Homo sapiens: one gene and its partners. The protein of the gene in region 5 interacts with the protein of the main gene of each other region in a biochemical or structural test. Each region holds a gene or a part of one and is shown on either strand. Other genes may lie near its edges. The genes, in order: AXL, S100A7, ADAP1, NSRP1 and RANBP9.

Region 1 (5,146 bases), on a different chromosome or scaffold from region 5:
GACTCATAGAGCCTTAGCTCCTAAAATCAGAATCTTAGAACTTTAGAACCTAAAACCTTGAGGCTTTATCAAAAATGTTAGAACCAGAAAATCTAAAACCACATAATGTCAGAGCTTTAGAACAGTAGGTCTTAAGGTTGAGTGCAGTGGCTCATGCCTGTAATCTCAGCACTTTGGGAGGCTGAGGTGGGCAGATCACTTGAGGTCAGGAGTTTTAGACCAGCCTGGCCAACATGGTGAAACCCTGTCTCTACTAAAAATATAAAAATTAGCCGGGTGTGGTGGCACACACCTGTAATCCCAGCTACTTGGGAGGCCAAGGCAGGAAAATCACTTGAACTCGGTAGGTGAAGGTTGCAGTGAGGCGAGATTGCACCACTGCACTCCAGCCTGGGTGACACAGTGAGACTCTATCGCAAAAAAAAAAAAAAAAAAAAAAAAAAAAAAAGTAGGCCTTAGAACCTTAGCACTTTAATAGAATTAGAGACTTTGGAATTTCAGGTCCTTAGAACCAAAGACTCACAGCATCTTTGAAACCTAGAACCTTTGAATCTAGACTCTTTAAACCTTGGACTCTAGAGTCTTGGAATGTTAACACCTGGGAGGGCTTCAGATATTGCAATCCAACCCCTTCCTTTTACAGATGGTGATGCTACTGCTTTCAAGGTGATGCTACTGCACAGAGAAGGGGAGGGACCTGTCTGGGATGGAGGTGGGATAGGTAGGAAGACAGGGCTGCAAGTGGGGATAAGGCGTGGGGTGGGAAAGTGGGAAGGTGGAGTTTTCCCCAGTGGCAGTGCTTAGCTTGGATCCTGAGAGGGAGTACCAGGTGGAGGGTTGTCTCAGGCACCATCCTCCTGCCCTGGGGCTGCTGGGGAGCCCCTATCAGCAGGCTGAGCGGGGCTAGGGGTTGTGGAAGGGCAGAGGACATAGCGTCCAGCAGGATGGACCTCAGCCGCAGTGAGGCAGCTACAGGAATCCTTAGGGTCTGGCTGGGTTGGGGGGTCAGCTCCTCCTGCAGCTCCAGGGGGTTCAGGATAACCTCCACCCTCATCCATGTTGACATAGAGGATTTCGTCAGGCTCCTGGGCAGGAGGCAAGGCCTTCAGTGTGTTCTCCAAATCTTCCCGCAGCTCTGTAAAACTTGGCCGGTCCTGGGGATTTAGCTCCCAGCACCGCGACATCAAGGCATACCTAGGGCAGCAAAATGAGGGGTGGGAGATTGAGCAGGGACTCAGAAGGGGTGCATTCTGGAAGCCTGGGGACATTTTAGGACACTCAGGGGACTGGGGGCATTTTAGAGGGTTATAGGGAGCCTCAGCAGTTTGAGGCCATCTATGGGGATTTGGGAATTCCCAAGAATTTCTGAGTTGGGTCCTGGGAGACTCAGGAGCTGGGAAGGGTCTCGGGAAACCTGTCTGTATATGGAGTAGTATTCTGATGAGGGTTTGCTAGAACAGACCTTCCAGCTCCCCAGAACAGACTTGCATCAAAGCCTGGCTATGCCACTTACAAGCTGTGCTGGTTTAAAATAGGTCCATAAATTCTTTGACCCTCCTCCCTGCAAAAGACGGAGAATAAATCCTCTCCTCTTGAGCATGGGCAGGACTTAGTGACTTGCTTCTGATTTGGCAGAAGTGATGGTGTGTGTGACTTCTGAGACTAGGTCATAAAAGGCATGTGGCTTCCTCGCACTTTCTCCTGGGTTGCCATGTTGTGAGTAAGCTCAAGCAGTGCCACAAAGGGGTCCACATGGCAACGAACTGAAGCCTCCTGCTACAGCCATGTGAGTAAGCCACCTTGAAAGCAATCCTCCAGTCCCAACCTTCAGATGACTGCAGCCCCCAGTGATATCTTTGTAACTTCATTAGAGATCCTGAACCAAAATCACCCTGCTAAGCTGTTCCCAGTATCCAACTTTCAGAAATTGTGTGAGATAATAAACGTTTGTTGTTTTAAACTACTTGATTTGGGGATATAGATAACAAACACACCAGCTGTGCAATCTTTGGCAAATAAATCACCCTCCCAGACTGGGCGTGGAGGCTCATGCCTATAATCCCAGCACTTTGGGAGGCTGGGACGGGTGGATCATGAGGTCACGATATCAAGACCATCCTGGCTAAGGTGGTGAAACCCCATCTCTACTAAAAATACAAAAAAAATTAGCTGGGCATGGTGGCACACGCCTGTAGTCCCAGCTACTTGGGAGGCTGAGGCAAGAGAATCGCTAGAACCTGGGAGGTTGCAGTGAGCCGAGATGGAGCCATTGTGCTCCAGCCTGGGCGACAGAGCGAGACTCAAGTCAATAAATAAAAATAAATTACCCTCCCTGTAGGACTGGGTTTTCTTATCTGCAGAATGGGAATCATAATGATACCTATCTACATCACATGGCTGTGGTAAGGACCAAATGATTTGACACATGCCAGGCACCTAAAACAGTGCCTTCTAGTCAGTTATATGAAAATGTTAGCTGTTATTTTTACTCGTCTCAGCTCTTGGAGTACCCAAGGTGGACTGAGGAGTCTGACGCCCCAGGCTGTCTCCTCCTGACCCAAAGTCATCCTCTCTTTACCCTCAAAGTGCTAGCTAAATGTCACGGCCTTCTCCGCATACTCCAATATTGCAAAGTTTGGTAAGCATTCCCTGAAGGATCCTGCAAATATCTCAGAGGAGACCTGAGTCTGGAGAAGGCCAATAAAACAAACTGAAGGGTTTTGCAGAGAGTCTCAGGTGTTGAGGAGCATGTCGGGGAAGCATGGTGTGCTCAGGAGTCTGGAATGAGAAGTCTCTGGGAGTGCATGTCCCAAAGGCAGGGCCGCCAGGTAAGACTGTGCTGTTATTCACTACCCAAGGATACCTGGCTTGGGGGTGGGGAGCCAGGGGGCTGATTCAGCCCACACAGACAAAGGAGGAAAGGGTGCCTTTAGCTGATTTGCACCCCACTGGTTAGTGATGGCCCTACTCAGAGCATTGGTGAGGGGCAAGTGGGTCACTCAGCATTCTCAGGGATTCTGTCTGGGTTATAGAGAGTCCTGGACCTGTGAGGGCCATCTGGGGGTAGTCAGGGGTTTGGAATGAATTCTGGGTTGGGGGAGACCTAAGGGTCCTCACAGTCCATCCAGACAGTCCGCAGGCTGCTTCAGGCGATTTCCCTGGCGCAGATAGTCATAAATCTCGCTGTTCTCCACGCCCGGATATGGGGTTTGGCCTCTTGTGGCAATCTCCCACATTGTCACCCCGAAGGACCACTGTGAGGGGCAGAGGGAATTAGACAGTCTCTCCTGCACAGAATCACCCGCACCAATACCCAGGTTCATGGGTACACCCACACTTATGTACACATGTTCACAACCATCCTCTGGGAGCATCACAAGTATTCATAGAAACATAATACTTTAGCCGGGTGCGGTGGCTGATGCCTGTAATCCCAGCACTTTGGGAGGCTGAGGTGGGCGGACTGCCTGAGGTCAGGAGTTTGAGACCAGCCTGGCCAATATAGTGAAACCCCGTCTCTACTAAAAATACAAAAATTAGCTAGGCATGGTGGTGGGCGCCTGTAATCCCAGCTACTCGGGAGACTGAGGCAGGAGAATTGCTTGAACCCGGGAGGCAGAGTCTGCAGTGAGCTGAGATCATGCCATTGCACTGCAGCCTGGGTGACAGTGCGAGACTCCATCTCAAAAAAAGAAAAATATATATATATAAAAAATACTTGACACGGGTATACACATGAATAAGTAACTTTTGTGGATGCATACACATGCTCACCATCACACACATATACACACTTCATGGACACATGAGCTCATGTGCCACTCTGCACACCCTGGCTGTCCACATTCTATGAGTGTGCGCACATGCACGCATAATCACTGCAGCTTCTTCTAACCTAAACTGTCTACATTGCTACCATGCACACGTGGGCCTGTATTTATCCTGGGCATGTACACACCACTATTCAGAGATGCCCACCATACCCCAAGACATGCCCAGCCCATGTGGACAAGCCCCTGCAAAGGGAAGCCCACATGTCCCTGTGACCCTTGCATCCACAGCCACCCAGGCATAGTGTGTGATGGTCAGGCCATGCCCTCCCATGGTTCCCCACTCTTGGCGGGAGTGCACCTACCACATCGCTCTTGCTGGTGTAGACACGGTCAGCTAGACTCTCAATGGCAATCCACTTGACTGGCATCTTGGCGATACGTCCCTGGCGGTAGTAGTCCCCATTGTAGATCTTCTTGGAGAGCCCGAAGTCCGCCACACACACGGACATGTTCTCATTCAGCCTGTTTGGATTGGGGAAAGGAACAGGGTCAGGGCATCAGTCACCTCCACCAGGAAGCCTGCCCTGGCTCTCAGACACATCTGCACCTCCTCCCCTCACTGTCCTGGCTGCGGGTGGGGATCTGTCTCCTAAACCTTCATCCCAGTCCAGAAGGGAACTGCTTTACTTCTTGTTCACTCTGTCAAGTGAGGATGGGACAAAGGGCTTCCTCAGGACTTCCCAATTTTGGCTCTTTGCTAGATTCTAAGGTCCTTCCTTGGGTTTGATTCCTTGATGAAATTTTTTTTTCTTGAAGTATACTGTACATATGGAAATGTGCACAAGTCATAAGTAAGCAGCTCACTGAATTTTCACACACACACACACACACACCCATGTAACCAGCACCCAGATTAAGAAACAGAACATGGCTGGGCATGGTGGCTGGCGCCTGTAATCCCAGCACTCTGGGAGGCCAAGGCAGGTGGATCACTTGAGGTCAGGAGTTTGAGACCAGCCTGGCCAATGTGGTGAAACTCTGTCTCTACTAAAAGTACAAAAATTAGCCAGGTGTGTTGGTGCACATCTGAAATCCCAGCTACCTGGGAGGCTGAAGCAAGAGAATCAGTTGAACCCAGTAGGCGGAGGTTGCAGTGAGCTGAGATCACGCCACTGCACTCCAGCCTGGGCAACAGAGTGAGTGAGACTCCGTCTCAAAAACAAACAAAAAAAAAAACAGGCACAGTGGCTCAAGCCTGTAATTTCAGCACCTTGGGAGGCCAAGGTGGGAGGATCACTTGAGGCTAGGAGTTCAAGACCAGCCTGGAAAACAAAGCAAGACCCTGTCTCTACAAAAAAATTTAAAAATTAGCT
Region 2 (6,797 bases), on a different chromosome or scaffold from region 5:
AGCACACTGCCTGGCCTGGAGTAGACTACCAATAACAAACTACTCCATTACCTGCGAGATAGAGGTGCTGCAATTTCTCATCACAGTCAGCATGAGCTCTCTGTGTCAGTCCTTAGGACATTTCCGTGGTGCTGCCTTATTCCGGCTAGACTCCTTATTTGGACTCCTGGACTACTTTGAGCTCCTCAAAATCTGGAATATTCATTTATCACCAGAAACCCAGTCCTGGCATTTAGCAAACCATCGAGGACAGCTCAGCTTCAAGATGACTCCCTCTCACTTCCACAGGGTCACCCACTTAGGCACATGCACACAAGTGCACAGCACAGAGAGAGGACACAGCCCCTGGAGCCCAGGCCACAGGACAAGGGAGCTCATCCTCAGGGAACTACTGAGCATCCCATTCATAGCCACAAGGGCCCTGAGCCTGATGCCATCCAGGAATCCCTATGTGAGTGGTTTCTGTTTCCCCAAGCCCTGGAGAACAGCTGGGGCAGGAGCGGGAGGGCAGGAGCACACTGAGAGATGCCAGCCCCTTCTCAGTGCGGTATCTGAATGTGTCTGAATGACCCTGGTCCATGCCTTGACAAGGAGGAACATTGCTGTGATCTGGCAGGAGCTTTCCACTGACTTCCACCTGGAACCTGCCATGGTGGCTGCATTTAGGGAGCGGGGCAGAAGCAGACACCAGGACCTGTGTGAGAGGCAGCTCAGCTCTGCTGGAGGCCATAGGGGGAACGTTGCTGGAGGGACATTACTCCTGGGTGACCCACTGGATGGGGGTGGGGGAAATTCTCCAACAAAGTTAACCTGGAATTGGTAGTTTTGACAACGTAGGTCACCAAAGAGAAGAAGAAAATAAGGCAAGTGTCTGGTGGGAGAAGACATTTTATTGTTCCTGGGGTCTCTGGAGGCCCATTGGTGGGGCTGGGTCACTGGCTGCCCCCGGAACAGGGCGCTGCTCCATGGCTCTGCTTGTGGTAGTCTGTGGCTATGTCTCCCAGCAAGGACAGAAACTCAGAAAAATCAATCTTCTTATCCTCATTCTTGTCCTTTTTCTCAAAGACATCGGCGAGGTAATTTGTGCCCTTTTTGTCCTGTGAAGAGAAAAACATACAAAATAGAAAAATTCAATCACAAACAAGTTTTGGGCTGGGAGGGAGAGGAGGAGGCAGAGATACAGACAAGTACCTAGATCTGCACAGGCATGGTGGCGGGGCTGAGAGCACAGGGTGAGTGGGTGAAGTTGGGGTGAGGACGTGAGTGTTATCCCTGGAGTTCTCTAGGGAGTCTTTTTGTCTCACACCTCAGGATGGGAGGCAGGTCCTGTCCCAAGGTGCTCTGTTAAGTGACCTTGGGGAGAGCAGTCCCCTGCCCCAGCCTCACTCTTTCCCGTCCCAGCCTCTAAGGGCACTGCCTACCTTAGTTCTACCCCAGGGCCTCAAAATTGGCCCTCATGCTTTTGTTCTCTTCTTTCTCTGGCCTCCTCTCCTTTCTTCTCCTTTTCCACCAAACTCATCTTCTGGGTATCCTACTCTTGGTCATCTAGACCCTTTGGTACCTAGTAGCCCACAGTTTTTTTTCAGATTTGCTAATGAGTCTTGTTTATTGCAAAGAGGGCTATTGATTTCTACTAACAATGGAACTTCTAGTGCTTTCCCAGTAATCTCAGGGATGTTGATGTGGGGCCTTTGGGAAACAGGACCTGAGCATGTGAGTTTCAGTCTCACAGAGAGAGGGTCAGTGAGTGCTGGGAGGGGACTGTGCACTGCCCTCAAGCTGCACACTTTGCTGACCATCTAATAACCTCCTTTATATCTGTATAACTCTTTCCCATTTTCATACTTTTTTGCCTACCATCCTTAGATTCACATATGATCCAAGTAATAAAGCCCTATTTGCAAATGGGAAATTTTTTAATCAGAGGGTGAGGGTGATCTGTCCAAGGCCACATAGCAAAATGTATCCTCCAACATTGAGAAGCTAGACACCGACTCACACAGGCACTAAGGAAGTTGGGGAAGTTCTCCTTCATCATCGTCAGCAGGCTTGGCTTCTCAATCTTGTCATCACGTCTGGTGTATTTGTGAAACATGTCGATCATGCCTATTATGGACCTCTCAGCTTGAGTGTTGCTCATCTTTGCTTTCAAAAAGCCTTCAGGAAATAAAGACAATCATTTTTTTCCCTTCATTTAAGTTAGGGTCTCTATTTGGGAGTGCTGGAAGGAGGGCTGAGGACAGAGTAAAAACACGGATAAGGTGTAGCAGAACGAACTCAATTTTTTTTTAATGTGATGGGATAAGTTGCTCAAAAATGAGAGGGTAGGACCAAGTCTGAGACCTGGCCCATCCTGGCCAGGGCCAAGAGGAGATGCAGGTGGATGGCGGAAGTCCAGCTGTGGACAGTGCTTCAGAGAGGGAGAAGCAGGGAGAGTCGGGCGCCAGCAACACATGGAAGAACTAAGCTGGGACACCCCAGCCTCAGCCAGCACATGGCAGACCCCACTCTTAAAAGAGCACCAAATCCATCTCCTCCAGCTTCACAGTCGGGGTGACAGTCATGGGGGCAGGACAATGGCCTTGGTGATCTGGTGTCTGACCCTCCTCGGCTGCTTCAGGAACCAGACACCGTGGGCCCCACCTTGACTCAAGTGCAAGCCCTGCATGACACGGTGTGTGCAGGCTCCAGGTGCACATGTGAGCGTGGACGTGAGTGTTAGCAGGAAACACAGTCCTGTCCCGAGCACAGGGGGCCCTTCTTGTATTCCCTTGGGAACGAGAAACAGGAATGGCCTCTGTTACAAGGAACAGAAATAACTCTCTGGTTCTTAAGCTGCTGGACGGGGTGGGAGTGAGGTGGGAGTCACTTCATGTCTGCTCTTGGGAATTATCTGCACCCTCTGAATCACCAAGCCTTGACTGTTTAAATAAAAATGTCTGACTTCCCAAAGCAGATCTTTCAGCCAGTAGTCAGTCTGGGCTGGCCTGCACCCCAAGCCTGAAAAATAGGACAGTGCAGTTCTCACTTCCCACACTTTCCAAAGAACCAGGAAAGGACCTTGGCTAATGCATATGGGTGTCTGACAATAAACCCCCAACACCTCTCAATGCAGGAGAAAGCTCCATGCCGGCAACTGACTAAGAGGAGCCACCCAGAGCTTTTTTGAATCTGAGGCCAAGGCCAGAGGGCAAGCCCTGTGCCCAGAGGGTGACTGACAATTTGCAGGTTGTGGTAGGGAGTGACGGAGCGTTGGTTTCTCAATACCTTACCCAGGTAGGGGCAAGCCATCTGGCCAGGGCTATGCTGTGTCGGGGTCCCAGGCCTGGGGGTTTGGAGAGCCTCCAAAGCATTCACAGGGGACCCCTAGCCCTCCACCCTCTGTGGAGCTGGAGCTGGGGAGGGGATTTAGCAACCGGGACCCCAACAGGAGGATGAATCCAGGGAGGAAGAGGACAGGGAGGGTCCTGTGCTCAGGTCCCACTGGGGACATTTCCACAGGAGTTGCCTCAGGAGATCCCAAAGGAGCAATGGACAGGTCTGGTTCAGCCACCTGGTTATACAGACGTGGGCTTTTGGGGTCAAGTGAAGGTCACACAGCCCAGCTAATGGCAGAGCTGGCCTAGACCCAGGCTTCTGAGTCTTTGTCCACAGCCCTTTCCCTTCCTACAGGCAGCATGGCAGGCCAGGCACTGGGCACTTCTAGAAAACGCAAAGAGGCAGGTGAGACTTACCAGAGCTGGGAAGCGTCACGAGTAGAAGGATGAGTGAGATGTGTGTGTTTGGACAAAGAGCAGTCCTTTATAAGGCTCAGCCTGGCTCTTCCCAGGGGCTGGGAGGCCTGGGGCCACCTCTGTCATCTGTTTCTTGGAGGCTTGCCCCACATCAGGTGGGTGGGACACACCCAGGAGGCTGTGCTCAGGATTTCTGGCCAGTGTCCCAGGTCACCAGGTCCCACCCCACCCCAGAGACCTCACCTGGAGTCTTCTCTGGCTCAACCTTGATTTGAGGGTAAGGCAGCGGTACATGTGTAGTAGCAGGTCAGAAAATGGGAGAAAAGAGCACTGGGCCTCTGGACCCAAAGAGGATGGAGTTTCAGACTCCTGAAGGCAGCATGGTCTTGTTTGTTCCCTCCCCTTATCCTTCCACACATTTGTTATGACAGCCTGTTCTATGACCCCCACCGCTGACTGAGCATTTTAATGTCTAGATATCAAGATACCTGCTGCTCCTGCATCCTCCTCAACCCTCATAGTCCTAAGAGGTGCTTCAATCTCTATTTTAGGAAAGGAGAAGTTGAGATGTTCCCAAGTTTACTCAGCTAGTAAACACAACAAATCATTATATGGACTCAGAAAAGCCTGAATCAAATCCTTACTCTTATCCCCTGTGCTATAGGTCTTGGGTCACATCAGGGTCTGCCCTATGGGAACTCAAAGTCCAGGGAGGGAAGCAGGGTTACTTCATTGCTAACCATTGGTCAGCCCCTCACAGAAGCCCTGGAATTAGGTGGGGGGACTGGGGTCAGGGGCCTCACTATCTAGGTTGAGTGGTGGAGTGACCCCCCCATGGAATGAGCCTGGAGGCAGGGAGTGGGAAAAGTTCTTTCCTGCCCCATGGCACTAACTTCCCAGAAAGTCTTCAGTGTTTTTCCTCCTCCTATGCAAAACAGCCTGTGTAGGAGTTGGGAGTTGTGCCCTTGGCTATAATGTGCCCTAACCTGCTGTGGAAAGGCTGACCCAGGTAGGGGCAAGAGGGTTGGGAAGGCATGGGAATCCCTGGGGCATGGTGAGGAAAGGGAGATGATGAATCACTGAAATGGACTTTTTCTGCTACCCCCTTGCAATGTTCCTTTTAGGGTGCAAGAGAGTTCCAGGTTCATTTAGTGCCAGCCCTTTAAGCACTCTGGGGCTCCACAGAGCTGATGTGATGTCTCCCTAGGTGGGACCTATTTTCTCCACCCATCATCTTTCTTCAACTTCCTTCTCGTCAGTACCTATGTAACCAGGGGGACCTGTTTCTCCCTCTCCCAGTTCCCCATGTGATGGCAATATTACTTTTAACAGCAAAAGATACATACACACACACACAGTGGAATGCTACTCAGCTATAAAAAAAGAATGAAATCACGCTTTTTGCGGCAACATGGATGGAACTGGAGGCTATTATCTTAAGTGAAATTACTCAGAAAGTCAAATACTGTGCAACCTCATGTGTAAGTGGGAGCTACATCATGCATACAGATGGAGGTAGAGAGTAGAATCATAGACACTGGAGACTGTGAAGGGCAGCAGGTGAGGCGGTGGGTGAAGGATGAGACATTTCTTAGTGGGTACAATGCATGCTATTTAGGATGGCTTCATTAAAAGCCCAGACTTCACCATTGTGCCATATATTCATATATATGTGTATGCAGGTTTTTGTGTGGACATAAGTTTTCACTTCTTTTGGGTAAATCCCAAGGAGTGTGATTTCTGGATCCTATGGTAAGAGTATGTTTAGTTTTTTAAGAAAGCACTAAACTGTCTTCCAAAGTGGCTGTACTATTTTGTGTTCCTGCCATCAATGAATGAGAGTTCCTGTTGCTCCACATCCTTCTTCAGCATTTGCTGTTGTCCAGTGTTCCAGATTTTGGGCATTCTCATAAGTGTGTACTGGTATCTCATTGTTGTTTTAATTTGCATTTCCTTGAGGACATATGATGTGGAGCATCTTCTGATATGCTTATTTGTCACCTTCTGTATCTTCTTTGATGAGATATCTGTTAAGGTCTTTGGCCCATTTTCTAATTGTTTGGTTTGTGTTCTTATCGTTGAGTTTTAAGAGTTCTTTGTATGTTTTGGATAACATACAAAGTCTGATATGTCTTTTGTAAACATTTTCTCCCAGTCTGTGGCTTATCTTTTCATTCTCTTGACAATATCTTTCACAAAGAGAAATGTTAAATTTTAAAGAAGTCCAGCTTATGAATTCTTTCTTTCATGGATTGTGCCTTGGTGTTGCCATCTAAAAGTCATCACCAAAACCAAGATGATCAAATTTCCTCTTATGCTACCATCTAGGAGTTTTGTAACATTGTGTTTGCATGTAGGTCTATGATTCATTTTGAGTTATGTATCATCACTGTTTAGAAAAAAGGAACAGAGGAAAAGTAATACAAAAGGAATCAGGGACAACAATATTAATACAAGACAACAAAGAATTCTAAGAAAAGGGATTAAATGAAAAAGAAGAATATTTCTTATTGATTAGTGTGCAAGTCACCAAGATGCGGTAGTCTTATTCTTTTTTTTTCTTTTTCTTTTTTTTGAGACAGAATTTCGCTCTTGTTACCCAGGTTAGAGTGTAGTGGTGTCATCTTGGCTCACTGCAACCTCCTCCTCTTGGGTTCAAACGATTGTCCTGCCTCAGCCTCCAGAGTAGCTGGGATTACAGGTGCACGCCACCACATCCAGCTAATTTTTGTATTTTTAGTAAAGATGGGGTTTCATCATGTTGGCCAGGATGGTCTCGAAGTCCTGACCTCAGGTAATCCACCCTCCTTGGCCTCCCAAAGTGCTGGGATTACAGGTGTGAGCCACCAGGCCCAGCAATAATAGTCCTATCCTTATACACATAAGAACACAATTTTGAATTATATAAAGCAAACACTGAAAGAAATTAATGGAAACTGACAAACTTATATCACTTGGCAGGTTTTGGCAGAGTCTGCCCAGGAACTTCACAAAGCCATCAGATAACAAAACACCAGTAATGGCACAGAGCAGGGCGGGCAGATGCTGCCACAGCCCAGAAGC
Region 3 (6,124 bases), on a different chromosome or scaffold from region 5:
ACAAGCCCACAGCCTGGCGAAGGGATGGATGTCACATCCCAGTGTCCCCCCCTGGGTCAGTGAAGGTGGGTCGAAGGGCGAAGGGACGGATATCACATCCCAGTGTCCCCCACCCAGGTCAGTGAAGGTGGGTCGAAGGCGGTGAGCCCAAGGTGGGCCGGGGTCCTGAGGGGATTCGCAGGGACGCCCTCAACTCAGGGTGTGGGGGATCACGGCATTAAGTGCAGAAGCTGATTTGGGGTCGCCCTGGGTGGGTCAGGGACTCTGCTGTCCTTGGGTCTTTTTCTGTCTCCCAGGCTGGAGCACAAAGGTGCAATCACAACTCACTGCAGCCTCGAATTCCTTGGCTCAGCCAGGCATGGTGGCTCACGCCTGTCATCCCAGCACTTCGGGAGGCTGAGGTGGGTGGATCACCTGCGGTCAGGAGTTCAAGACCAGCCTTGCCAACATGGTGAAACCCTTCTCTACTAAAAATACGAAAATTAGCCGGGCGTGGTGGCGTGCACCTGCAATCCCAGCCACTCGGGAGGCTGAGGCAGGAGAATTGCTTGAGCCCGGGAGGTGGAGCTTGCAGTGAGCCGAGATCATGCTACTGCACTCCAGCCTGGGCGACGAAGCCAGACTCCGTCTCAAAAAAAAAAAAGAATTCCTGGGCTCAAACAATCCTCCTGCCTCAGCCTCCTGAGTGGCTGGGATTACAGGCACCACCCCCACACCTGGTCGAGGCACTGGGATCCCAGCTGTGATTTCTAACAAGCCTCCAGGTGTGACCCATGCACCAAGGCTGCCTGTTAGAAGCAAATGAGCTACTCCCAACCAGGGGCAGGGGTCAGTGGTGCTGGAGAGCCGGGGGCCGGGGTCAGTGGTGCTGGAGAGCCGGGGGCCGGGGGCCGGGGTCAGTGGTGCTGGAGAGCCGGGGGCCGGGGTCAGTGGTGGTGCAGAGCCGGGGACCGGGGTCAGTGGTGCTGGAGAGCCGGGGACCGGGGTCAGTGGTGCTGGAGAGCCGGGGGCCGGGGTCAGTGGTGCTGGAGAGCCGGGGGCCGGGGTCAGTGGTGCTGGAGAGCCGGGGGCCGGGGTCAGTGGTGGTGCAGAGCCGGGGACCGGGGTCAGTGGTGCTGGAGAGCCGGGGACCGGGGTCAGTGGTGCTGGAGAGCCGGGGGCCGGGGTCAGTGGTGGTGCAGAGCCGGGGACCGGGGTCAGTGGTGGTGCAGAGCCGGGGACCGGGGTCAGTGGTGCTGGAGAGCCGGGGACCGGGGTCAGTGGTGCTGGAGAGCCGGGGGCCGGGGTCAGTGGTGGTGCAGAGCCGGGGACCGGGGTCAGTGGTGCTGGAGAGCCGGGGGCCGGGGTCAGTGGTGCTGGAGAGCCGGGGGCCGGGGTCAGTGGTGGTGCAGAGCCGGGGACCGGGGTCAGTGGTGCTGGAGAGCCGGGGACTGGGGTCAGTGGTGCTGGAGAGCCGGGAGCCGGGGTCAGTGGTGCTGGAGAGCCGGGGGCCGGGGTCAGTGGTGGTGCAGAGCCGGGGACCGGGGTCAGTGGTGCTGGAGAGCCGGGGGCCGGGGTCAGTGGTGCTGGAGAGCCGGGGGCCGGGGTCAGTGGTGGTGCAGAGCCGGGGACCGGGGTCAGTGGTGCTGGAGAGCCGGGGACTGGGGTCAGTGGTGCTGGAGAGCCGGGAGCCGGGGTCAGTGGTGCTGGAGAACCAGGGGCTGGGATCAGTGGTCCTGGAGAGGGGGTGCCAGAGTCAGTGGTGTTGGAGAGGGGGGGCCCAGGGTCAATGGTGCTGGAGAGGGGAGAGACATGTACAGGAGGCCACCAGCCTCTACGACCCTCCCCATCCCCACAGCAGCCCCCAGACCACCACTCTCACCTCCATGCGGCCCTTCGGTCCCACTCACAGCAGTCAGGAAGATCAATGGCTTCCAGACCCCAAGTCCCACGAGTGGGGCTGGGGTGACCCTCCCACCGGGTCTTCAGGCCCCACGCTCCATCCGACCTGCAGCCCCCAGCCGGGGTCTTGTTCCTTCTCCACCTCCCTCGGGGTCTCCCTACGGGGCCCTTCCTGCCGCCTCCAGCATGCGTGGCCCCTCCCTGCACGCCAGGGCTTCCTGGTTGGCTCACACCCGTCTCCCTCCCCATAGGGGCGTCTCTAGGGCCCCACGAAGCATCTGTGGCTGGTGTCCCTGCCTGGCCATGCCAAGTGCTCCGTGAAGCCTCATCAGATGCATGGGTGAGAGGTGGGCAGTGGCTGTGTCACCTCAGAGGCCGCCCAGGGGACAGGTAATGGTGCCCTACACGGCAGCGGGCCGGGGTGCACGTGGACTGCCGTGTAAATGCGACCCTGACTCTGGGTCGTGCCGCGCGGCCTGGGACGCTGCATTCTGTTTCCTTAGAGACAGGGTCTCTTTTACCCTGAGCCCAGTGCTCCAGGTGTGGGGATTTGAGGGGAGCACTCCGGAGCTCCCAGGGCACGGGAATCGGCGACCCGCCTTCGCTCCCTGGCCCACCACACACACCTGGAGCTGCTCACAGAGAGGTTGGACCCGGCACGGGGTGGGTGGAGCAGCCACACAGGCGGAGCCGCTGGAGAGGGGGCGGGGTCCTCGGGTCCAGCCAGCCAGGCCCCCAGAGTAGCCCAAGGCTCCAGGGGCCACAGCCAGGCCGCCCGGCATCTCTGGCTCCAGAGGCCCGGGCTGAGGCCACCCGGGGACTGCGCGGGTCCCCCCGCCCCTCCCCCTCCGTACCTCCACTTGGGCCTCCTCCCAGGCGTCCAGGCGGACGGACTTCACCTTGCTGACCTGGGGGATATTCCGGTGGATTCCCGAGCAGCTCAGGCAGATGAAGACGCCCAGAGTGTAGGAGGCCCAGTCGGGATCTGCAAGGGAAAGCCGGACGTTCACGGAGGCTCAGCCCAGGGACCCCGGAGGGAGGGTGGACGGAGCCTCGAGTCAGGAGCCCCCGGCCATGCAGTGGGGGGGGCTTCAGCGGAGACCCCCGGGTACACCAGGCTCCGTGCGCCCCACAGGCACCTAACCCCAGCTCCCCCCCCGCCCTCTGCCCGGTGCAGACGGGGCTCTCCCCAGACACCCCACGGCATCTGAGGAAGCCGATCTGCATGCACCTGCTCTGCCCCGCGGGTGCCGGGAACCTCCAGCAGAGGCCGGCCCCACAGGAGCCCATGCCCCGGGCTGGAGGGCACCCGGCACTCGTGAGGATGGGTCCACCTGCTTTCCTCGTGTCCGCTGCCCTGGGAGAAGTCTGTGGGCCCGAATCCTCCTGGGTGATGGGGCCAAGATTGGGAAATTCAGATAGGATCTGAGTGCAGGGGGTGCCTCACACCCAACGCGCTGCACACCCCCGAAGGACGGATGGTAGCCGCGGATGACGACGCACCCTGCGTGGGGTGACAGCGCCCGGCGGCCACTAACTTTGCAGGTGTGACAGCGGCGCTGTGGCTTCACCCTGCATGTGGCCTGTCTAGGGATTCCACGTCTCGATGTCTGGTTTGCCTTAAAAGGTCCAACAAAGCTGGACACAGTGGCTCAGGCCCGTAATCCCAGCGCTTTGGGAGGCTGAGGGAGCAGAATTTTTTTTGAGACATAGTCTGTTGCCCAGGCTGGAGTATGATGGCACGATCTCGGCTCGCTGCAACCTCTGCCTCCCGGGTTCAAGCGATTCTCCTGCCTTAGCCTCCCGAGTAGCGAGGCACGCACCACCATGCCCGGCTAACTTTTGTATTTTTAGTGGAGATGGGGTTTCATCATGTTGGCCAGGCTGGCCTCGAACTCTTGACCTCAAGTAATCCACCTGCTCGGCCTCCCAAAGTGCTGGGATGACAGGCGTGAGCCACTGCCCAGGGTGTGGGTGCCACAGCGCAGTCTTTCTGCTGCTGCACGTGTGAAATGTCTCATTCTGAAACGGCAAAATGTGGGGAGCGTCCAGCCCCGCCCTGGGGCGATGGCTAAGAGGGCTGCTGTGTGACTCTCCTGTTTTCTTCTGGCTCCCAACGACCCTTCACAATAAGTCAAGGGAGTGGAATGGCTGAAAGGCACCCTAGAGAGAACAGTCTCTCTGGGGGAGATGAGTCATCTCTGAACTGCTTTTATTTTTAAGTGGAGGCTCTCCTGGGTGAGGCTGGTGGAAATCGAGGCGCTTCCCCACAAGCAGGTGCGGCTGTGGACCCAAGCCTGTTTGGGGAATCATGAGTGGAGAGGACCCCACCCTTCAGGCCTGGCGGAGGATAGCCCCCCTCCCAACGCTGATCGGGGCCCACCCCTGGCTGGTGGGGGACTCCCATGCCAGGCGGCGGAGGCCCAGTGGGGCTGGGGCTGGGCCTGGGCTCTGAGTCACTGCCAGGAGGAGAGGCACCCAAGTGAGCCCCCGGCCGGGGATGGTGCGTGAGAACCAGCAGGCTGAACCTCGGATTTGGGGGTCATGCCCGGCCTCTGGGATTTGGGGGTCACGCCGGGCCTCGGATTTGGGGGTCACGCCCGACCTCTGGGATTTGGGGGTCACGCCCGGCCTCTGGGATTTGGGGGTCACGCCCGACCTCTGGGATTTGGGGGTCACGCCCGACCTCTGGGATTTGGGGGTCACGCCCGGCCTCTGGGATTTGGGGGTCACGCCCGACCTCTGGGATTTGGGGGTCATGCCTGGCCTCTGGGATTTGGGGGTCATGCCTGGCCTCTGGGATTTGGGGGTCACGCTGCACATCTGGGATTTGGGGGTCACGCCGGGCCTCTGGGATTTGGGGGTCACGCCCGACCTCTGGGATTTGGGGGTCACGCCCGGCCTCTGGGATTTGGGGGTCACGCCCGACCTTTGGGATTTGGGGGTCATGCCCGGCCTCTGGGATTTGGAGGTCATGCCCGGCCTCTGGGATTTGGAGGTCATGCCCGACCTCTGGGATTTGGGGGTCACGCCCGGCCTCTGGGATTTGGGGGTCACGCCCGACCTCTGGGATTTGGGGGTCACGCCCGGCCTCTGGGATTTGGGGGTCACGCCCGACCTCTGGGATTTGGGGGTCATGCCCGGCCTCTGGGATTTGGGGGTCATGCCCGGCCTCTGGGATTTGGGGGTCATGCCCGACCTCTGGGATTTGGGGGTCATGCCCGGCCTCTGGGATTTGGGGGTCACGCTGCACATCTGGGATTTGGGGGTCATGCCCGGCCTCTGGGATTTGGGGGTTTTCTGTCACAGCTGTTAGGCTCCCTGATTAATGAAGCCTGTCTCCCCATTAACGTGGGCTTCTTGAGGACCCCAGACCCAGCACCCCCGGATCTGGCACAGAGCTCAGTCCGGAGCAGGTCTCCACGGGAGTCATGAATGAAGGGGCCACTAACAGCCCTACTTCAGCAGAGCCCCTGTCTTCGAGAGAGACCACAGGCTTTCTCCTCACCCCTCAGTCAGTCAAACATTTGCCCAAGTGACCCTGTCTCGGGTACCAGGAGTTTTGCCTGTGCTGAGTAGGGCGGCTTTTGGGAGAAAGAATGCGGTTACAGGATCAGCCGTTGTTTGGTTTTGCGGGGTTTTTTTTGTCTTGTATTGTATTGTTTTGTTTTGAGACAGGGTCTTGCCCTGTTGCCCAAGGTGGAGTGCAGTGGTGCAATCACAGCTCACAGCTCACTGCAGCCTCCAACGCCTGGGCTCAAGCGATCCTCCTGCCTCAGCCTTCCAAGTAGCTGGGACCGCAGGCATGCACCAGCATACCCAGCTAATTTTTAAAATTTTTGGTAGAGATGAAGTCTCTCTATGTTGCCCAGCTTGGGCTTGAACTCCTGGGCTCAAGCGATCCTCCTGTCTTGGCCTCCTAAAGTGTTGGGATTACAGATGTGTGACGCCGTGTCTGGCCTGCAAAGTATTTAGTTACACACACCCCTGGAGAACAGGTGGGGAAGAACCACACTGAAGTCCCAGAAGAGAGAGACCTGACTCCCCCCGGGCTCCGTCTTCTCCCGAAGCCTTGGTGAAAGATGCCGCAAATGCTCGGTACGTGGCTGTGCGAGGGGCGCCCAGAAGGCACGCCAGTCTCCGGGCCTCGGTCTCCTCATCTGTCGGATGGGACAGCACGAGCCACTTACAGGGGTAGCAGGCAACATGAGCCCAGCTGGGAACATCACCGCTCGGGGTGCAG
Region 4 (6,124 bases), on a different chromosome or scaffold from region 5:
TTATGAAATCTATTTTTTCTCTTGCTGAGTTCAATAAGATCAACCCTTCCCTGATTTATGGCAAGAGGATCTGCTTTTGTGATATTTACCTTCTTGAGTATCCTTTCTTTTTATGAAAACCAGACTAAATTAAAAGTTCTCTTAAAATTTGTGTTAGTATTTGAAAAAATTTTATACAAGTTTATGGGATACCTGTGAGATTTTGTTATATGAATGCAATGCTTAGTGATCAAGTCAGTCAGCAATTAGTGTCTGTTACCCAAGTACAATACGTTTTTGTTAAGGGTAGTCACCCTGGCCAGGTGCAGTGGCTCATGCCTATAATCCTAGCACTTTGGGAGGCCGAGGTAGGCAGATCACTTGAGGCCAGGAGTTCGAGACCAGCCTAGCCATCATGGCAGAACCCCATCTCTACTAAAAATACAAAAAAAATTAGCCACGCATGGTGGCGCACACTTGTAATCCCAGCTACTCGGGAGGCTGAGGCAGGAGAATCGCTTGAACCCGGGAGGCAGAGGTTTCAGTGAGCTGAAATCACACCACTGCACTCCAACCTGGGCAGCAGAGCAAGACTCCATCTCAAACAAACAAAAAGGATAGTCACCTTACTCTTCTGTCAAACACTGAATATATTCCTTCTATCTTACTGTATGTTTGTACCCTTTAACCAGCTTCTCTTTATCCTCCCCATTTCCCTCACTTACCCTTCCCAGTCTGTTATCTACCTTTTCACTCTACCTCCATGTGATCAAAGTTTTTATTTTAGCTCCCACATGGAAGTGAGAACATACGATATTTATCTTTTTGTGTGTGGCTTATTTTACTTAAGGTAATGACCTCCAGTTCCTTCCATGTTGCTGTAAATGATACGATTTCATTCTTTTTATGGCCAAATACTATTCTGTTGTGTATGTATACTGTATTAGTATTTTAAGGATACCACTAAAAACGTAAAAAGACTTGACCTTTAAAAACATAAGATCTGGCCGGGCACGGTGGCTCACATCTGTAATCCCAGCACTTTGGGAGGCCAAGGCAGGTGGATCATGAGGTCAGGAGTTCGAGACCAGCCTGACCAACATGATGAAACCTTGTCTCTACTAAAAATACAAAAATTAGCTGGGCATGGTGGTGTGCGCCTGTATTCCCAGCTACTCAGGAGGCTGAGGCAGGAGAATCTCTTGAACCCGGGAGGCGGAGGTTGCAGTGAGCCGAGATCGCACCACTGCACTCCAGTCTGGGCAACAGAGTGAGACTCTGTCTTAAAAAAAAAAATAAGATCTTACTGATCTGCTTTTAATTGTAGTAGTTTTTTTTCTCACACATAAATATATGTATTTAAGATATTTGTTAAAAAGAAAAATATTTTCCCATTCATGATATGACTACAATGTATCTGAAGGAATCTGTTTTTCATTGATACTATGGAGTAGATGTAGAAACAGTACTTAAAATATCAAATACTAAATAGACTCGTTTTTCCTTTAATGTTAATAACATTCTGTGTTTTCATTTTATGTGACTTTCCACTCTAATGGTCAACAGTACATGTACAGTTATAATAATACTTATGTTACTCTAGTAGATGGAATCATACCTCAGCTTTACGTTTTCAGAGGAATCATCTCAGTTGGTGAATTTCCAATAATAGCAACATAGGACACCGTTCAATATTATAAAGTTTAAATCAGATTTATGCTATAGGCTATTTGTACCTTTCCATGCCTTTTAATTCTGTGTTGTCTTGAGACATTTCAGTGTATATCCAGTACTGGTGTTTAAAGGAAAGTTATTAAAGTTTGGAATAAGAGTACCTGAATTGGAATCTTGCTTTGCCATTCACCAGCTGTTTGTCCTTAAATTCTCTCAGGTAATCTGTAGCCTTAACAATTAAAGGTGACTTCTATATGTCATTTAGCTTACTTATCCATTATTTCTGAAGTTGTTAGGATTATTGTAACTACTGTTGTTGTTACTATTTTTAGATTAATATATTTCCTTTCTGGATTTCCATTTAAAATATATTTAAAGAATCATAAAAATTAAACACAAGCAACATCCTTTTATATTCTGCACAGTTCTTAGCAGAATTATAGATTCAAAAAAGACACACAGAATAGGCCACAATACATGTGCCAATTTTTGTTCTCAATCTTAAAATTACATAGTATAATTATTATGGTTATCTGAAAACAATCACGTTGTGCACATGTACCCTAAAACTTAAAGTATAATAATAATAATAATAGTAATAATAATAATAATAAATAAAATAAAATAAGTATCTGCTCTTTTATGAGGAAATTGTTTTTAATTGTAGTAGTTATTTTTCAGTCTGATCTGAATCTAGATGAGTTTTTTATGTTATATAGAAGATCATTTTATATATTTTTATATAGGGTTACTATTACAGAAAAAAGTAAAAGTTTTACTGCTACTCTTTTAAGCTTTTTGTATTTGTTTAAACAGGTTTTTGGCATTTAATCGTCATCCTTAGTGGTAATTGTTAAAGTACCTTTATTTAGAAAATTGAGAATCAAATGACCTTCAAAAGATCATCAGTTTTTCCTGACTTTTTCAGGTTAGGTTCAGAGTTATCCACTGATGCTGTTGAATTCTAGGGATATAAGTTTGTGAATAGAATATGTAAAACTATTGCACTCCTTCCATTATGTTACCTTCCTGTGTAAGTAGTAACAGCTTGTTTTTTCAACGGTCATACTTCATTCTTCTAAACAGCTATGAACATAGAAACAAAATCTTTTGAGGTGTCTCAAAATAGATATAGTCTACATTGGAAAGGCCTTTCTCAGTCTGCTTATTCTATATTTTATAAAAGTCTGGAAAGGTATAGCCTTGTGTTTTTCTTTCCCAAGTTTTCTTTTTAAAAGTTATTTTATTTCTCTGAGAATCTTCCATAACAACCAAGTTACATAGTTTAGATTGAAGCATCCAGTTTGAAAGGCAGCAGGTAAACTCTGACAGATTAAAGGTGACAGACTGAAGGAGGAGATAGGAAAAAATAAAAGCAAGTAAAAGAGGAAAACATCCAGCATTTGGAGATGTAATCTTCTCAGTCAGTCCTGAAGACATCATTAACTCAGTGGTCAAGAAAAATATTTTTCATTCATACTAATCAGAAATACAGACATGAAAATACATTGGAAATATTAACTATTACTTTCAGTTTTGGTATTTAAAATTGATATTCTAGTGAATGAAAGTTTCATATTACATGTAACAGAAATTTGGATTAAATCAGTAATACATGTAATACACAACTAGTATACTTAGCATAGCACCTAGCTCAATAAATGTTAGCAGCTATTACTGTTTTTGTTATCAACATCTTTCCCCCAGTTAGTCAGTTTACCATCACCTAAAATGTCTTTAGTTCTTTGCATACTTATTTAATTTTTTAAATATGTATTATATGACCTTTGTGTATTAAATTGATTTGTCTGTGGTCATAGAGAACTATTTTGTTCTGGTTATTACCATGAAAAAAAAAAAGCACCAATTGCTGGTACAATACAACTGAAGATAGCAAGTGTTAATAGGCTGGACTACTATAATTCTAGAGCTGAGGATTTTGTGTACATATATATATTTAAAACTTACACATATGTTTTTATGTATATTTAAGACTTCGTTTTTTTTTAAACAGCAGTTTTAGACTGACAGCAAAATTGAGAGGGACAGAGATAACCCATGTAGCCCTTGCCCCCACAAATGAAAGAATTAAAAATGCATCAGTAGCTTTATTTTGGCTTTTTTAAAAAGATGTAATTCACATAGCATAAAATTCATGCTTTTATACAATTCAGTGTCAGTATATTTGCAAATCCTGATACTTGAAAAAAATTAATTGTGCATATTAAGGTATATAACAATTATGGGATATAGATGGTAAAAAGTTTACTACAGTAAAGCAAATTAACATGTCCATTATCTTACATACTTTTTTTGTTTCTGTGGCAAGAGCAGCTACAATTTACTCATTTAGCATGAATACCATATATAGTACAATTTTATTACCTATTGTCCTCATGTGGTACATTAGATCTCTAGACTTGTTCATCTTGTTACATACCTACCTCTTCCCATTTCCTCTCACCCCACCCCTAGTAACCATTGTTTTTAAGTTCTTTATCTCTGTGAGAGATTCCACTTACAAATGATGTCAGGTACTATTTTTCTTTTTGTGTCTGGCTTACCATGTAGCATAATGTCCTCCAGGCCCATTCATATTGTGGCAAATGGCAAGATCTCCTTTTTAAAGGCTGAATAATACTCCATCATACATATTTACCACAGTTTCTTTATCCATTCATTTGTCAATGAACAGGTAGATTGTTTCCATACCTGGCTATTGCAAATAATGCTGCAATGAACATGGGAGTGAAGCTACCTTTACCAGGTGGTGATTTCATTTCCTTTGGCTATATGCCAAGAGGGATTGCTAGGCTGTATGGTAGTTCTATTTTTAATTTGTTTATAAACCTCCATACTGTTTTCCATATTGACTGTACCAGCCTACATCTGCACCAGCAGTATATAAGAATTCCCTTTTCTGGCACCCATGCTAACCTTTATTATTTTTTGACTTTTTTAGAATAGCCATTCTAACAGGTGTGAGGTGTTATCTCTTAGTGGTTCTGATTTACATTTCCCTGATGATTAAAGCCTGTACTATTAAGGAAACATATTTTTCTTAAGTATTTTTTTTTCTTAGCTGTATGTAATCTTTAGTTTTGCCCATGTGATGACTACTTCCTATCTTCCTCTTGCATTCTTTTACATTTTTATTCTCTTTGATTCTGGTCTAATGTCATATCTCTTTTGGAAAGGGATTCTTGATTCCTCATATACATTTAGTTGCCTTCTCTGCCCTGGGCTCCCACAGTGCTTTGTTTATTCCTTTATTATATTGCTTATCACATTTATATTGTAATTGTCTTTTTTTTTTTTTTTTTTTTGAGACAGAGCCTGGTTCTGTTGCCCAGGCTGGAGTGCAGTGGCACAATTTTGGCTCACTGCAACATCTGCCTCCCAGGTGCAAGTGATTCTCATGTCTCAGCCTTTCAAGTAGCTGGGATTACAGCTGTGCTCCAACACTCCCGGCTCATCTTTGTATTTTCAGTAGAGACGGGGTTTCACCATGTTGGCCAGGCTGGTCTCAAAACTCCTGGCCTCAAGTGATCTGCCTGCCTCAGCCTCCCAAAGTGCTGGGATTACAGGCATGAGCCACCGCGCCTGGCCATATATTGTGATTATTTCTTTAATTGTCTTCCCTTTCAGACTGTTTATCTGAAAAACAAGATTTTGTTTCAGTCTCTGGCCTAAGACTGAGACTGTTCTTGCTTTTTCACTATCCTCAGGACCTAAACATGCTTTTTGGTACATAGTTTTTGATTATTGCCACGAATAGTTGCTGCTGTCCCTAAGCCTTAAACATAAACCGAGAGCTTGATACACTATATTGAGTGGTGAATATTAAAATAGTTTGCTTTTTGTAAGCTGGGAATCATACCATTTTAGTGTTGGAAGGTACCTGAAATATTATCTAGACCAGTCTTTCCCCATTTCTCACACACACACACACACACACACACACACACACACACACTCCCTCTCTCTCTCTCTCTCTCTCTCTCTCTCTCTCTCTCTCACATGTTCACATGAAGCAAATTGAAATCTGTAAAGGTTGAATGACAGTAGTGAATTTAGGACTAAAAATTCATGTTTACTCATCTTTTCCTGTACCATTCTATTTTCTCTGATACCTTATAATCTATTCTGAGGATTTACAATGCAAATTCATTTATTTCCTGAAGTTTAGGGAAAAAACCCTGAAAATGTTAGTTTAATTTGTATTATTATCTTTTTACTTTTAACTATAAGTAAGGCACCATTGCCAACCAGAAAACAGGTTGAGCATCCCAAATCTGAAAATCAAAAATCCTAAATGTTCTAAAATCTAAAACTTTTTTGAGCACTAATGTGAAGCTCAAATGAAATGCTCATTGGAGCATCAGATATCAGATCTTCAGATTTGGGGTGCTGAACCAGTAAGTATTTTAAAAATCTGAAATACAAAACACTTCTGGTCCCATGTATTTTA
Region 5 (6,124 bases):
GCTGGGAATGGTGGCACGTGCCTGTAGTTGCAGCTATTCAGGATGCTGAGGTGGGAGGATCACTTGAGCCCAGGAGGCAGAGGTTGCAGTGAGCCTAGATCGCACCACTGCATTCTAGCCTGGACAATGGAGTCAGACCCTGCCTCAAAAGAGAAAAAAAAAAAAGCCTCCTAATTGATCTTTTCCCAGATGCTCCTTGTCACATACTCTAAATGCCAACCCAAAATTGCTTGTAAAACCAGACACATAAAGTAATTCTCTATGTTTTTGCTTTTCCTTCATTTGCAACACCTAGCCCCTCCCTTTCTCCTATATCCTACTCATCTTTTAAGACTGACCACTAGCCTCGACTCCTCCAAGAAGCTATCCCTGATACCTACACTTCCTTCATTCTTTCCAATGTCAGCCTGGGTTATACGCTCCTCCTATTTTCCACAGTACTCTCTATAATATTTCCCTTACTACTCTATTTTATGTCCTCTGAGCTCTCTGAATTCAATGACAGTATCTTCTCCACCTCTGAGTGTCCAGAACCTAGCACAAAGTAAACATTCACTAAAAGCTCATTAAATAAATGAAGAAATGAACAGTGAAAAACACATATAAATTGTCTAGTCTAGCAGAATATATATCATTAGGCTGGGTGCAGTGGTTCACGCCTATAATCCCAGCACTTTGAGAAGCCAAGGCAGGCGGATCACTTGAGGTCAGGAGTTCCAGACCAGCCTGGCCAACATGGCAAAACCCCATCGCTACTAAATATACAAAAATTAGCCAGGCGTGGTGGCAGGCGCTTGTAATCCCGGCTACTTGGGAGGCTGAGGCTGGAAAGTCACTTGAATCCAGGAGATGGAGGTTGCAGTGAGCTGACAAAGTGCCACCACTGCACTTCGGCCTGGGCGACAGAGCAAGATTCTGTCTCAAAAAAAAAAAAAAAAAAAAAAAAAAAAAGAATATACATTATTATTGTCTACTGTTCTGCATGATTATTAGATTTACTTGATTCTTGCAGTTACCAACTGGCATTTTTAAACCTAATTTCCCAAAATCTTGGCAAGTAATTCTTCAATTCCTTCATTTTAAGGAACATTTTTAGGCCGGGCGCGGTGGCTCACGCCTGTAATCCCAGCACTTTGGGAGGACGAGGCGCGCAGATCACAAGGTCAGGAGATCAAGACCATCCTGACTAACTCGGTGAAACCCCCTCTCTATTAAAAATACAAAAGAAATTAGCCAGGCGTGGTGGCAGGCGCATGTAGTCCCAGCTACTGGGGAGGCTGAAGCAGGAGAATGGTCTGAACCCAGGAGGCGGAGCTTGCAGTGAGCGGAGATCGCGCCACTGCCCTGCAGCCTGGGCCTGGGCGACAGAGCAAGACTCCGTCTCAAAAAAAAAAAAAAAAAAGAAACATTTTTATATCACCCCCGTAATGCTTAACAGACATTTGCACTTGTAAGCAAGCATGCTGAAATATCTGTTCAAACTTAAAAAGTGCAAGAAATTAGATAAGCAATTATATTTAGGAAGTGTTCAAGCGCTAATGACTGGGGGTACAGGTGGGAAAGACAGAGTAAGTATAACAAAAGTTCAACCTATCACTCCTGTAATCCCAGCACTTTGGGAGGCCGAGGCGAGTGGATCACTAGGTCAGCAGATAAGAGACCACCTTGGCTAACACGGTGAAACCCTATCTCTACTAAAAATACAAAAAATTAGCCGGGCGTCGCGGCGGGCACCTGTAGTCCCAGCTACTTGGAAGGCTGAGGCAGGAAAATGGCGTGAACGCGGGAGGCGGAGCTTGCAGTGAGCCGAGATGGCGCCACTGCACTCCAGCCTGGGCAACAGAGCAAGACTCGGTCTCAAAAAACAACAAAAAAGTTCAACCTATTTGGTTATTGTTCATAACATTTCAATTAAAAAGTGAAATTCTGGCTGGGCACTGTGGCTCACGCCTGTAATCCCAGCACTTTGGGAGGGCGAGGCGGGCAGATCACGAGGTCAAGAGATCGAGACCATCCTGGCCAACATGTTGAAACCTCCCCTCTACTAAAAATACAAAAATTAGCCAGGCGTGGTGGCGCATGCCTGTATTCTCAGCTATTCAGGAGGCTGAGGCAGAAGAATTGCTTGAACCCGGGAGGCGGAGGTTGCAGTGAGCCAAGATGGCGCCACTGTACTCCAGCCTGACAACAGCAGAGCGAGACTCCATCTTAAAAAAAAAAAAAAAGGACAATTCAGGCCAGGCGCAGTGGCTCATGCCTGTAATCCCGGCATTTTGGGAGGCCGAGGCGGGCAGATCATCTGAGGTCAGGAGTTCAAGACCAGCCTGGCCAACATGGTGAAACCCCGTCTCTACTAGAAATACAAGAATTAGCCGGACGTGGTGCTAAGCGCCTGTAATCCCAGCTACTCAGCTACTCAGGAGGCTGAGGCAGAAGAACTGCATGAACCCAGGAGAGGCTGCAATGAGTAGAGATTGTACCACCGCACTCCAGCCTGGACGATAGAGCAAGACTCTGTCTCAAAAAAAAAAAAAAAAAATGCAATTCACTATTTATTTACTTATTTTTTTTTTAAGATAGGGTCTCACTCTGTCACCCAGGCCATCATAGCTCACTGAAGCCTCAACCTCCTGGGCTCAACCAATCCTCCTCCCTCAGCCTCCTAAGTGGCTGGGATTTCAAGTGTGTGCCACTTAGCCCGGTTAATTTTTAGGGGTAGAGACGGGGTCCCACTATGTTGCCCAGGCTGGTCTAGAACTCTTGGGCTCAAGCGATCCTTCTACTTTGGCCTCCCAAAGTGCTGGGATTACAGGCGTAAGCCACCACACCCACTGAAATTGACTATTTCATTGCTTCCTATAATTCCCAACTTTGACTTACCTTGGATTTCTTCTAAACTGTTCTAAATTAGTAAAATCAAGGTGTCTGGACTTTTCTGAAGCACTGTGTTCCAGTTACCTTTTTCCCCCAGAGTAAGTATTTTCAATCTCAACTATTCTTTAAAAGTTCTAAATGTGATCACAGGATTTTATCTACTTGAGATAATTAAGTCTCATATGAACTTAAAGAGGCAATACTATGGGATTGTGAAAAGAACACTAAATCTGGAGTTAGTGAAAATTTTCAATCCTGATTTACTCATGACTGGGAAGATCTAACCTCCAGGTTCTACCACTCTCTAAAATTTAAAATGAAAATTCCAGGATCTTGTCCAGATCCACTAGTGTGTGTATATATAAAGCACTCTATAAAATATCCAAATAGTGGTAATAACTAGAAAAATATAAAAATGCAATCTGTTGTTGAAACATTTAAACTAAGTCCATTGTCATATTTATTAAAATTATTTTCCCGTTATCATTATAACTAAGTCTAAACTTGTCACATTTGTACTTATTCAATACTGACAACAATTTCAAAAATAAGAGGGGCTATCCCTGGGTTTTTCAATAGTTGTTGTGTGACTGCTAAGCAAAAGGCCTTTAAAAAAATTTCACATATACTATACATACCCTGTTGTTCCTCTGCAATCCAATCAACCTTATCTGCATGTCTAGTATTATCTAACATTAATCTCTTCAAATCATTTCAGGAACAATACTGCTTCCAAAAGCAGTAATTTCAATTTAGAAGAACATCTTAAAAACAGAATACAGGCTGGACACAGTGGCTCAGGCTTGTAATTCCAGTACTTTGGGATGCCAAGGTGGGAGGATCACTGGAGCCCAAACATTCAACACTAGCCTAGGCAACACAGTAAGACCCCATCTCCACAAAAAAAAAAATTACAACTTAGCCCAGCATAGTGACAGGAGCCTGTGGTCCCAGCTACTTGGGAGATGGAGGCAGGGGGATCCCTTGAGCCTAGGAGGTCTAGACTGCAGTGAGCCATGATCGCACCACTGCACTCCATCAAGGCAACAAAGTTGAAATCCTATCACACACACATACACAAAAACACCAGAACAACAACAAAAAACCAGAATACCTTTGGAGCAAAAGAAAGCAAAATACTTCTATTTCAAAGATAAGGAAAATTCTCGTCACTCTGGAAAATAATTAAAATCATTCTTTTGAAATTCTGTAATACGTGAATATATGAATAGTAGTTTTTACTGTTAAAAGTGTCTCATGATACTTAGGTAAAACCAATGCAGCACAATGATAGGTTAAATAAAAATTCACTCTTCTTATTCTGTGATTTTAAAGTATTATCTACTCTCTATGATACTTCTCCTTTGCTACTGCTACTGCTACTGGGACACAGTTGCCCACCACAATCGGCGTGGTCCTCTCACAAAACACGCAGAAAATCAACAGTAACAACGGAAAACTCACACACACACACACACACACACACACAGTCTACAGTAACAAGACAAGAGGAAGAGGCAGTAGAAAGGGAAAAAGACTTTCTGACAAGGGGTAAGAGAGAGACAAAGGAAAGATAGAAGAGAGGAAAAATAAAAGGATAACAACAAAATCTGTTCTTCCAGAAATAATGATTTATGTTTATAAAACAGTTATGTTCCCAGAAAGTGAACCTTAGTATTACACAACAGAAAGTAATAAAGAGGCCAAGAATAAAAACAACTGAGACAGCAGTGTCAGAAATATTCCAAACTCCAACTAATTTCATATAAACGTGTATTTTTCTCTGACCTAATCATCAATTTTATGTAAAAGACTAAAACTAATCAAGACACCTTACAGTACTAAATAAACAGTAATCACGAATCTTAGACATCACGGAAATTCAGAGCTGGAAATTTCCTTACCAATCGTCCAGCTCAACTTACACACCACTCAGAGGAAGAAACTGAGGCTCAGTCTTGTAAAATATCTACAACCACAAACAACTGCAGAACTCAGGAAATCTAGAATTCTTTGTTCATCTACACTGGCTCTGACTTTATGAGCAAATTATTTACTGTCAACCATAAATTTAAAATTATAAAATTCTGTCACATCTAACAATAGCTTTCTGGCAGCCAGATCAGAAGTAAACACCTCATAACATAGCACCGTTCACACAAATTAAAACATAAAAGTAGAAATACTTCACAAGGAAATTAACAAAAGGTCCTAACTTGAGAAAAAACAAAGATTTGATATTGTGAATGAAACGTTCAGACGTTTAGATTAAGGAGGATAACACTTGGAAGTACTTCTTTGGATGTATGGCGAGAATAAAAAGAATGTTCAACAAGGCCTATTTTTGTGCGTGATTCTTTGCAGCCAAATCATTTGGTAGATTTCTATTGCCATTCGCCTTTCTGATTAAATAGTAACTTACTTATCAAGCTTCTTCTCAAATTTCAGTCCCGTATAAGTTAAGAATTTAACCACAAGGTTGTTTATCTCCTCTACATACATGTCACTAGGATCTGAGTAGACCCCTTTACAGCCAATCAAAGTGAGGCTGCCGTGAATGTAAAAGCTTCTGCTTTAGGTTTGGGGCCTAAAACCCTGGATTTGTTTCCAGACAAGACTGATACGTTAGGTTGATTTTTTTTTCTTCCACACAAGTAAACTTGATACATGCTATTAAATTGGGCTACATTTCAATAGTTCCCATAGCAATTCATAATTTTATATACAACTGATTTGCTTCCAGCTTTGTTTTAACCTAGGAGAGGTAGGTGAGGGAGGAAAGGGGCAAGCACAAGCCTAAGGTTGTTGTTTTTAACTGCAAGTGCAAAACATAAGCCAATTTTCTTCAAAATACTAAGCTGCATTTTGTTCCATCTTCGTTTTCAACAAGACTTCATGTGATATCAACACCTAAGGACCTGTATAGGGCACTTCCAATCGGGAGGGGTAGGTTTCTGCTCCCCTAAGAAAAAGGGTGTTCCTGGGGTTCCCTTCTCTTACCCTCCCGGTTGCTTTTACTAAAATATATTGATGGCAAACTTGGGCCCCTTGTCCTTTTGTCCCCCTAGACAATCTCTGGCCTAATTTTGATTACTCCTCCCCCTGTGTATCCCTGCTCTCTCTTAATTAGAAATCATACCTCAGAATCGTGCCTCTCTTCCCCCCTTGTAAGAGGAGAACGCCTGACCCACCACCTGGAGAACAATGTAACCCAACTCCGAGTCCATGGATTCCTCTACCCAAGCCCCAA

The links.
Region 1: the proteins of RANBP9 (region 5) and AXL form a complex in vitro, tested with the Homo sapiens proteins (one study listed by BioGRID).
Region 2: the proteins of RANBP9 (region 5) and S100A7 form a complex in vitro, tested with the Homo sapiens proteins (one study listed by BioGRID).
Region 3: the proteins of RANBP9 (region 5) and ADAP1 form a complex in vitro, tested with the Homo sapiens proteins (one study listed by BioGRID).
Region 4: the proteins of RANBP9 (region 5) and NSRP1 form a complex in vitro, tested with the Homo sapiens proteins (one study listed by BioGRID).

What each region holds. Positions count from the first base shown.
Region 1 is NC_000019.10:41,255,601-41,260,746, reverse strand, and holds part of AXL (tyrosine-protein kinase receptor UFO isoform 1 precursor), read right to left. Parts: intron 4,296-5,146; coding exon 4,136-4,295; intron 3,255-4,135; coding exon 3,118-3,254; intron 1,195-3,117; coding exon 843-1,194; 3' UTR 1-842. UniProt on the Homo sapiens protein: Receptor tyrosine kinase that transduces signals from the extracellular matrix into the cytoplasm by binding growth factor GAS6 and which is thus regulating many physiological processes including cell survival, cell proliferation, migration and differentiation.
Region 2 is NC_000001.11:153,456,874-153,463,670, forward strand, and holds S100A7 (protein S100-A7), read right to left. Parts: upstream 3,779-6,797; 5' UTR 3,735-3,778; intron 2,158-3,734; 5' UTR 2,141-2,157; coding exon 2,000-2,140; intron 1,098-1,999; coding exon 933-1,097; 3' UTR 871-932; downstream 1-870.
Region 3 is NC_000007.14:932,640-938,763, forward strand, and holds part of ADAP1 (arf-GAP with dual PH domain-containing protein 1), read right to left. Parts: intron 2,867-6,124; coding exon 2,736-2,866; intron 1-2,735. UniProt on the Homo sapiens protein: GTPase-activating protein for the ADP ribosylation factor family. Binds phosphatidylinositol 3,4,5-trisphosphate (PtdInsP3) and inositol 1,3,4,5-tetrakisphosphate (InsP4). Regulates the incorporation of CD63 and CD9 into multivesicular bodies.
Region 4 is NC_000017.11:30,166,345-30,172,468, forward strand, and holds part of NSRP1 (nuclear speckle splicing regulatory protein 1), read left to right. Parts: intron 1-1,758; coding exon of another isoform or gene 1,759-1,870; intron 1,871-2,556; exon of another isoform or gene 2,557-2,581; intron 2,582-6,124. UniProt on the Homo sapiens protein: RNA-binding protein that mediates pre-mRNA alternative splicing regulation.
Region 5 is NC_000006.12:13,704,485-13,710,608, forward strand, and holds part of RANBP9 (ran-binding protein 9), read right to left. Parts: intron 1-6,124. UniProt on the Homo sapiens protein: May act as scaffolding protein, and as adapter protein to couple membrane receptors to intracellular signaling pathways. Acts as a mediator of cell spreading and actin cytoskeleton rearrangement.